2 linked regions of the Homo sapiens genome follow. The protein of the gene in region 1 interacts with the protein of each later gene in a biochemical or structural test. Each region holds a gene or a part of one and is shown in the gene's direction. Other genes may lie near its edges.

Evidence for each region. Proteins that work in one complex are often made in the same cells at the same time.
Region 2: the proteins of MAPK1 (region 1) and PTPRR form a complex in vitro, tested with the Homo sapiens proteins (2 studies listed by BioGRID, with this or other methods).

Annotation. Positions count from the first base shown.
Region 1 is NC_000022.11:21,801,216-21,806,036, reverse strand, and holds part of MAPK1 (mitogen-activated protein kinase 1), read left to right. Parts: coding exon 1-187; intron 188-4,821. UniProt on the Homo sapiens protein: Serine/threonine kinase which acts as an essential component of the MAP kinase signal transduction pathway. MAPK1/ERK2 and MAPK3/ERK1 are the 2 MAPKs which play an important role in the MAPK/ERK cascade.
Region 2 is NC_000012.12:70,640,870-70,645,690, reverse strand, and holds part of PTPRR (receptor-type tyrosine-protein phosphatase R isoform 1 precursor), read left to right. Parts: intron 1-4,821. UniProt on the Homo sapiens protein: Sequesters mitogen-activated protein kinases (MAPKs) such as MAPK1, MAPK3 and MAPK14 in the cytoplasm in an inactive form.

The DNA of each region.
Region 1 (4,821 bases):
TATAGTACAGGACCTCATGGAAACAGATCTTTACAAGCTCTTGAAGACACAACACCTCAGCAATGACCATATCTGCTATTTTCTCTACCAGATCCTCAGAGGGTTAAAATATATCCATTCAGCTAACGTTCTGCACCGTGACCTCAAGCCTTCCAACCTGCTGCTCAACACCACCTGTGATCTCAAGGTCAGCCAGGTTATTTACTATTAAGGTGATATATATTGAAAAACCCTTTCACTGAAGCATAGTTATATTTGTCATTATTCATATTTTAAATTACACCAGAAATACCCAAAAACATGTTTATGGCAAAAATGCTAATAAAGTGTGGTAGTCCTCTTCTTCTTCCTTATCCCATTGCTCCTTTCTCCCCAGAGATACCTTTTTTTTTTTTTTCTTAAAGACAGAGTCTTAGTATGTTGCCCAGGCCGGTCTGGAACTCCTGGGCTCAAGCAGTCCTCCTTTCTTGGCCTCCCAAAGTGCTGGGATTATGTATGTGGGCCACAGCACCAGGCCGTGATAACTAACTACTATAACAAATTGGTGGCCAGTTGCGGTGGCTCACGCCTGTAATCCTAGCACCTTGGGAGGCCAAGGTGGGCCTTATCACCTGAGGTCAGGAGTTCAAGACCAGCCTGGCCAACATGGCGAAACCCCATCTCTACTAAAAATACAAAAATCAGCCGGGCGTGGTGGCATGCGCCTGTAATCCCAGCTACATGGGAGCTGAGGTAGGAGAACCGCTTGAACCTGGGAGGCGGAGGTTGCAGTGAGCCGAGATCACACCACTGCACGCCAGCCTGGGTGACAAAGCAAAACTCTGTCCTAAAAAACAAAGTGTATTTTCTCCCAAAGTATTTTCTATGCTCTTGCATACATGTGTATTTTTATACTTTATATAGATAAACAGGATCACGTACATTATGTGTTAGTTTTTTTGTTCGTTTGTTTGTTTTTTGAGATGGAGTCTCGCTCTGTCACCCAGGCTGGAGTGCAGTGGCGCGATCTCAGCTCACTGCAAGCTCTGCTTCCCAGGTTCCCGCCATTCTCCTGCCTCAGCCTCCCGAGTAGCTGGGACTACAGGCACCTGCCACCACGCCTGGCTAATTTTTCTTTGTTTTTGTATTTTTGTAGAGATGGGGTTTCACCGTGTTAGCCAGGATGGTCTCAATCTCCTGACCTTGTGATCCGCCCACCTTGGCCTCCCAAAGTGCTGGTATTACAGGCGTGAGCCACCGCGCCTGGCCTTATGTGTTAGTTTTAAAATCATGTTTTGTTGGTGACATTTTTCTTCAATAAATTTTATTCAAAAGATAGCAGCAGAAAACTTAACGTCACTGACTTTAATACCTAATAAGGCATTCCAACTAAATAAGAAAACCCCAAATTCTTTACAGTCCTCAGAGTTCTGAAAATATGCAGCATTTACATATTTCTGTTTTAATGGGTGTTACAGGTAAACGAGGGAAATTTATGGATATCTTAGATGTGACGGAGCGATGTCGATTCAGTCTAAAAAAATGCACAGGAATTCAAGAAGACCTAAATAAATGGGAAGGCATCCCATGTCTGTGGATCATAAGACTTAATACTGTTAAGATGGCAGTATTCTCCAAATTGATTTGCAGATTTAGTGCAATCCCTATCAAAGCCCCCAGTTGTTTTTTTCTGTAGAAATTGACAGGCTGATCCCAAAATTCATATGGAAATTCATATGGAGAACTGATACACTTCCTGATTTCAAAACTTACTGCAAAACACAGTAATCAAGACAGTGTGCTACTGGCATAAGAATAGACATATAGGTCAGTGGAATAGAAGTGAGAGTCAGTAAATAAACCCGTGTATCTATGGTCAACTGATTTTTGGCAAGGATGCCAGGACCATTCACTGGGGAAAGAATAGTCTTTTCAGCAAATGAATCTGGGACAACTGAATAGCCACATACAAAAAGATGAAAAAATTAACTCAAAATGGCTGGGTGCAGTGGTTCGCGCCTGTAATCCCAGCACTTTGGGAGGCCAAGGCCTGTGGATTGCCTGAGCTCCGGAGCAAGACCAGCCTGGGCAACATGGCAAAACCCCATCTCTACCGAAAATACAAAAAAATTAATCTGGGCGTGGTGGCATGTGCCTGTGGTCCCAGCTACTCAGGAGGCTGAGTGGGAGGACTGCTTGAGCCTGGGAGGTGGAAATTGCAGTGAGCAGAGATTGCACCACTGCACTCCATCTGGGGTGACAGAGTGAGACCTTGTCTCAAAAGGAAAAAAAAATTCAAAATGGATTGAAGAACTCAATTAAAAGCTAAAACTTTAATACTCTTAGAAAACATAGAAGTAAATCTTTGCAATCTTATGTTAGGCAAAGCTTCTTAGACATGACACCAAAAGCACAAGCAACAAAAGAAAAAAGTAAGTGGATTCCATCAAGATTAGAAACTTGTGCTACAAAGCAAACCATCAAAAAAGTGAAAAGGCAAGCCACAGAATGAGAGAAGGTATTTGCAAATCATACATCTGATAAGGGACTTAAAACTAGAATATATGAAGAACTCTTATAACTCAATAATGAAAAGATAAATAGCCTAGTTTAAAAAATGGACAAAGGATCTGAATAGACATTTCTCTAAAGAAGATATACAGATGGCAATAAGCACATGGAATGATAGATGCTTGACATCATTAGTCAGTAGAAAAATGCAAATCAAAATTACATTGAAACAACTTCATGCTAACTAGGATGGCTGTAGTTAAAAAGTCAGATAATAAGTGTTGGTGAGGATTCCACTCCTTAGTGAAAATGAAAACATGCATCTATACAAAAACTTGAACACAAATCTTCATAGTGGTATTGTTCACTATAGCCAGTAAGTAGAAACAATCCAAATGTCCAGCTGATGATGAATAAATACAGTGTGGTGGATCCACACAGTAGAAGAGAAAGGAGTGAAGTACTGATAATGCTACAACATGGATGAATCTTGGAAACATGTCTGTGAAGGAAGGCAGCCACAGAAGACACATATTGTATGATTCTGTTTACGTGAAATGTCTAGAATAGGCAAATCCATAGAGACAAAAATTAGAATTAGTGGATTACTGATTGCCTAGGGCTAGAGGAGTTGGGAGAATAAAGAAGGAAGGAATACTAACTCACTGGAATTTCTTTTTGAGGTTATAAAAATATTTTCAAATTGGATGGTGGTAATGGTTAATTTCCACCATTATAATACTAAAACCATTGAGTTATACACTTTAAATGAGCAAATTGTATGGTGTGTGAATTATAGGTTAATAAAGCTGCTTAAGTACATATATATGTATAGCAATAATCATTTATTGGATTTCAGTTCAACAGACACTCCTATGAGAAGCCCTTTGAGATACGCCAGACAAGAGAGATGAGGGTCTGCCCTTGAAATCTGAAAACTGATAGATCAGAAATCTGGTAGACAGTAGGTGATTATAATGAGATGTTCTGTAACTGAGATGGAGAAAAAGATGGTGTACAAATGCAAAGGAGAGAGGTGGGCTAGCGCTGGCTGGGACTGGGAGGCAGCAGGAAGAAGGTGGTATCTGTGCCGGCCCTCGAGGTTGGGTAGCTTTTCTTGCGGGAGGCCAGTGGCTCTATTGGACATAGGGTATCATAGGCAGAGAGTACAGAAATAAAATAAGAAGGAAGGGACTACTACCGAAAGCACTGAGTCTTCCTCCCTGTGGCTGCAGCATTGGATGAGTAATAGGGAGTCATCGACACTAAGCTAAAAAGGTTGGTTGCAAGTAGATCGTGGGGAACCTTCTAGAACTGTGTGTAAAAAGCGGTGGGTTTTGTCACGGTGGGTGAACACGGTGGCCAATGTCCAGTGAGATGTAAAGGACAGCTTCCTTCATCAGATATTGTGTGGATTGGACTCTGTCCCCTCTTAGGATCCTTCTGATACAGGTTTATGTCTTTTCCACATGGGATGGAACCAGCTCCTTTACCTGGATCAGTGCAACCAAGAGTCAGGTGGGCACAAAACGAATAAAGCTATGTTTAGGATGGCTGTACTACTTCTTTGGCACTTAATGATTGTCTTGAAAATTTGCAGTGAATATTTTTATGTCTCCTCGTGTTTTTTTTTTCTTTTGGTTATCATCATAGCCCTGTTATGGCAGATTGCTTTTGTTTTTGGAGAGACATTCTCAATCAATATTTTAAGCATATAACATTTCTGGGAAGAATTGGCTCTTATTTTTGCTTGAAAGTGTTCATCTTTAAGAATAAAACAAATAGAACCAGACTACTCTCTCTGTTGTCTCTTCCCAGTTTATGGACTTGTCTTTAAGGCCATTCTGTTCACCTACTCACACTCACACACACGAGTTGTTGGCCGTGGCATAATTTAGGCATCGTCTTGAAAACCCAAGTTAACACAAAGAATCAGAAGCATAACAAATTGACTAACATTTTATTTTATTTTATTTTATTTTTATTTTATTTATTTTTATTTTTATTTTATACTTTTTCGAGATAGAGTCTTGCTCTGTTGCCCAGGAGTACAGTGGCATGATCTCAGCTCACTGCAACCTTCACCTCCTGGGTTCAAGCAATTCTCCTGCTGAAGCTTCCTGAGTAGCTGAGATTACAGGTGCCCACCACCATGCCTGGCTAATTTTTGTATTTTCAGTAGATACGGGGTTTCACCATATTGGCCAGGCTGGTCTCGAACTTCTGATCTCGTGATCCGCCCGCCTTGACCTCCCAAAGTGCTGGGATTCTACAGGCATTTGCCACCACACCCGGCCTTTACTGATATTTTAAAAGTATACAGCAGTCAGG
Region 2 (4,821 bases), on another chromosome or scaffold:
ATCTGAATCCTCTCTGGCCTGGCCAAACACAGCATTTCATAGTCTGTGGGCACAAAGAAATCCAAGCCACGTGGCTAACACCACTTTTGCAATAAAGGGAATGACTTTCTTCCACAGCATGGAATGGGGCATCATTAGGATGAACAAATAATTTATCATCCAAACCAAGGTACTTCTGAGAGTGAAAGGTGACCCAATTGATAATGACACCAGGACAACACCAATGAACCACAACTCTTCCAAACATGGTTACCCTAGGTGTCGTATTAACTAAGAATAAGAAAAATAATACACAGCATTTATTTAGTACTCACTGAAGGGCAGTTACTGTGCCAAGAGTTTTGTGGATTCTCTCATTTAAACCTTGTAAAACTTGAAGCCTTATTAGATAAATACCTAAATACCTTATTAGCCAGGCCAGTGGTTTTCAAACTTCTTTGTGAACAATGGAAAACTTTTTGCAGGCAGAATCTTCCACAGAACACCAACACAGAAAACCAATAAAAAACACAACTTCCCTGGTCAAAGCTGGGATTGGCATCTAGTCCTAATGACCCATCCTCCTCCTCTGCCCTGCCCAGGGTCCTCAGCCACCTTTGTAGAACCCTGGGCTTCTGGGGATTCTGTGAATAGCCTTCAGCCAGACATTGATATGCTCTGATTCATTTAATCCTCACAACCCGATGACGTTTGTCATTTATGCCATTTTACAAGTGAGAAAAGCCAGGTTGGGAAGGACTAAATGACTTGTCTAAAATCATTTAGCTAAGTAAGTTAAAAAAACAAGGATTCAAACCTGAATCTGTCAGACTCCAAGCCTACTATTTTCATCATCTGCCTCCACTGTGCCTGTCTTCTAGGCTGGTCAATATTTAGAAAGATATTTGGAACTTAATGGGCAAACTAATGTCCTCTGCCAGATTTGCTCTTGGTTCTCCAGGGTCTTTGGGGGCCTCACTCCAGAGCCTCCTAACCAGTCCTATTTGACCAGATGGTACCAAAGAGTAACAATAACAATAACAATAATAATAGTTGACATTTATGGTATTGATATGTGCTTGGCTATGTGCTAAACATGTTAAGTGATAGTCCCATTTATTTCTCACAACAATGCTATAAAGTAGGAACTATTGTTTTTATTGTCGCATCATTTGCAGATGAAAAAACTGAGCACTGCAGAGATTGTGTAGTTGGGTAAAATATCTAGTAAGTGGTGGAGACAGAATTTGTCTTGACAACAGTGTATGCTGTCTTTTTCCCTCTTAACATACTCTGGTCCCCCCTGGTAATGAACTTGGCACCATTCTCTCAGCTAGCTGGGGTTCTCTTGACATTTTTATTTGACCTTACTCTTTTTTGGTAAACTAACTCCTGCTTAGCAGTAGGTATTTTCACTTAATGTATTATACCTCCTGGGAAAACAAACGTGTACTGGAAAAGAAATATCTGACGCACAATAAAATTTTAAAGAGTTTATTTAGTAAGAAGCCAGTCATACATTGGGAAACACCAGACCAAAAGAGGTTTAGTGTTCCAATGACAAAACGCCAGAGGCAAGTATTTATTGGGAAAGTACAGAAACAAACAATTTATTTGGTTGGTTTGCAATTACATAATTGCCTTTTTTCAGGTACTGTATTGGAAAGTCCTTACTGACATAACAATATGTGAGTTGGATGCTTATGATTGGCTGGGGTTATGTTTTAGTTCTAACATAAGCATTTATCAGATATGAACCTGAGGTAAGTTTCACTTCTGTTTGCAATTTAAGGTGCATGCATATTGGTGCACACCTGTAGTCCCAGCTACTTGGGAGGCTAAGGAGATCAGTTGACCTGGGAGGTTGAGGCTGCAGTGAGCCACGATCCAGCCAGGATGACACAGTGAGACCCTGCCCCAAAAAGAAAAAGAAAAAAAAAGTAAGAAAAAGAGTACCCTTGTTTCTCACCTCCCAGAACCACTTTGTATTGGGAACTTTATATCAGTAATATAGATCCAGATTTTAGCAAATCCATGAAACCTATCTGACCTAAGAGCTTCCTGGAGTCAAGTCAGAGCTCTCCTGAGGATGAATAACTATAGAGCTCTCTTGAGAGTTCCATAGTTAACCAAGCTTTATACATTTATTCCATAAATATATTTTGTATACAGACACTGTACTAGCTTCTTAGGTGTTTCTTTTTTTGCTATGACCAGCCTATCTAAAAAACTGCATTTGCCAGGCATGGTGGCTCATGCCTGTAATCCCAGCACTTTGGGAGGCTGAGGTGGATGGATTGCCTGAGCCTAGGAGTTCAAGACCAGCTTGGGCAACATGGCAAAACCCTCTCTCTCTCTTAAAAAACAAAACAAACAAAACAAACACAAAAAACACACACACACAGAAAAAATTAGCTCAGTATGGTGGCATGCACCTGTCATCCCAGCTACTTGGGAGGCTGAGGTGGGAGAATCACCTGAGCCTGGGAGGCCAAGGCTGCAGTGAGCTGTGATTGCATGACTACACTCCAGCCTGGGCAACAAAGCAAGACCCCATATCAAAAATAAGAAGAAAGAAGACTCTGTTGACCTTTCTAAGAATGGATTACCTGTTATAGAGCAAATGCTATCCTCTGGCCTCAACCTCCTGTGTAGTTGGGACCACAGGCATATACCACCATGTCCAGCTAATTTTTCTTTTAAATTGTAGACAGGGTCTAACTATGTTACCCAGGCTGGTCTCGAGCTCCTGGGCTCAAGTGATCCTCCCACTTTGGGCTCGAGTGATCCATCCAGCACTCCCAAAGTGCTGGGGTTATAGGCATGAGCCACTGCATCCAGCCAATAGACTATTCTATATATCAATATATGCAATAGGACATTTATTTAATATTTTCAGAGATGATTATGATGAGTTCCTGAATTTGAACCAGCCTCCAGTGAATGCATCCTGGAATACCTTTTGCTTTCTTTTAGCCTAGAGTTTATCTGTTTTCACATGACATGAAAATAGCATGACCTGGGTAATTCATTTGACAAGTATTTACCTAGGACTCGTAAGTGCTTTTTATTGTTACAAGTAGAAGAAGACCATGCCATTATGCTTGTAGGTCTTTAAAGGACCTACAACCTAGTTGGAAATAATTATAGAATGGGATTAGATAGTATATATCATGATATCAACTTACTCATATTAAAGACCCTACTTTGTCTCTTTTTCTATTTTTTAATAATGCCTTAGATAAAAAGATGTAAGGGATCCTTGTTAAATACCTGGGAGACACAACGCTGGGAGTGAGAAATGGAAGACTAATATATTGACGATAGATAGTGATCCAGTAAACAAGAGCATTGTGCTGAAACTAACAAGTTGAAATTAACAAGAATAAATAGAAAGCCTTGCATTTAGTTTCAAAAATCCAGTAGCATAATTACAGGATGGGAGAAAGCTATAATGTCCACATTCAAAAAAAGTCTTGTTGACTTTTTATTTAATCTACACCGTCAGTTAGTATCTTAAAATACTACCGAGAACCAGGCACCATGTAGGCACTGGGGGACCTCACCACCTGATGCACCTGCAAACACAGATCTATTGGTCTCTAACGTGCAGCTGGAAGAGAAAATAAGCCTGCTTCATAGATCTCATCAGAAGGAGACACAACTCTCTAAGAAGGTCATATTTGATAAAATAGCCTGTAGAAGAGGGAGACTAGAGTGGTGAGTGACAGAAAAACCAGGCTGTACAGAAATATTGAGTGACCACAGGATGTTTAGTCTAAAGAAGAAAAGATTATAGGACTTTGATGGCTGTTTTCCAGCCTTTGGAGAGCTGTTGTGTGACTACAGGGGAGCCTTAAGACGTCTTTTGGGTTATTTCAGTTGGACCAATGCGGTGAAAGTTAGAAAGGACAGATTCATGTTGATGTCTTAAAAGTTTTCCTGCCAACCTTGGAAAAGGCTGCCTCTAAAATTGCAAGATTTCTAAAAAAGCTATATTGTCAGTGACTAGAATGGATGATCTCTAAGAATTCCTCTGATGCCAGTTTTTTTCATTTTTATTTTCCAAATTAAGTGGGAGGTAAGAGAACTTTTCATATACTTTCCTGAAGCCTTCAGACCTGCAAGAATTTTGCCAGCCCACAATTAATGAGTATGCTTCTCCATCTTCCCCACTTTCACTGGCTAAAACAACCTTGATTTAGTGAACAGAATGTCATAGTAAATATACTCCAACCATTAAATTACACCACTGACCCACTTAGGGTGAAACAGTTATTAAATTCTAAACTGTGTCTCCATTCATTCACCAGTTGGACATGTAAATACCAGTGCTGACCAGAACATACAAGAAGGGGAAAATCTTGCCTCAAAGTGAGGTAAATGGTGAGAGGAAGCTGACAGACCAGAGCCTAAGAGGTGGAGCACATAGAAGCTTCCACATACTGTCTGCAGCTCAAGAGGGAGTAATGGTGCCCTGAGCTGTGCAAATGCCAGAGGAAGGGAGGCACCTCTCAGCTCCCTGGAGCTACCCTAATATTTACTGTGGTGGTGTCTCCCAAGCTTCACAGTTCAAGCCAGCATCTTCGGAACACCTGCTATGATTTTAGATGAGCCCAGATGTCATCACACAGCTAAGAAGATAAACCATTACCACATTCTCAGCTGGCCATTTCTGTTGTTCACTTCTGACCAAGGAATACTTAGCCCAGAAGGTTGCCTTCAATGCAACAAAATGTACAGCTCTAGGGGAGGAAGACCAATTAAATACTTCTGTCAATAAGTTGCTGTCACCAAAAACTGTGAATTTACCTCTTTATTTTTTGCCAATTACATCATTTT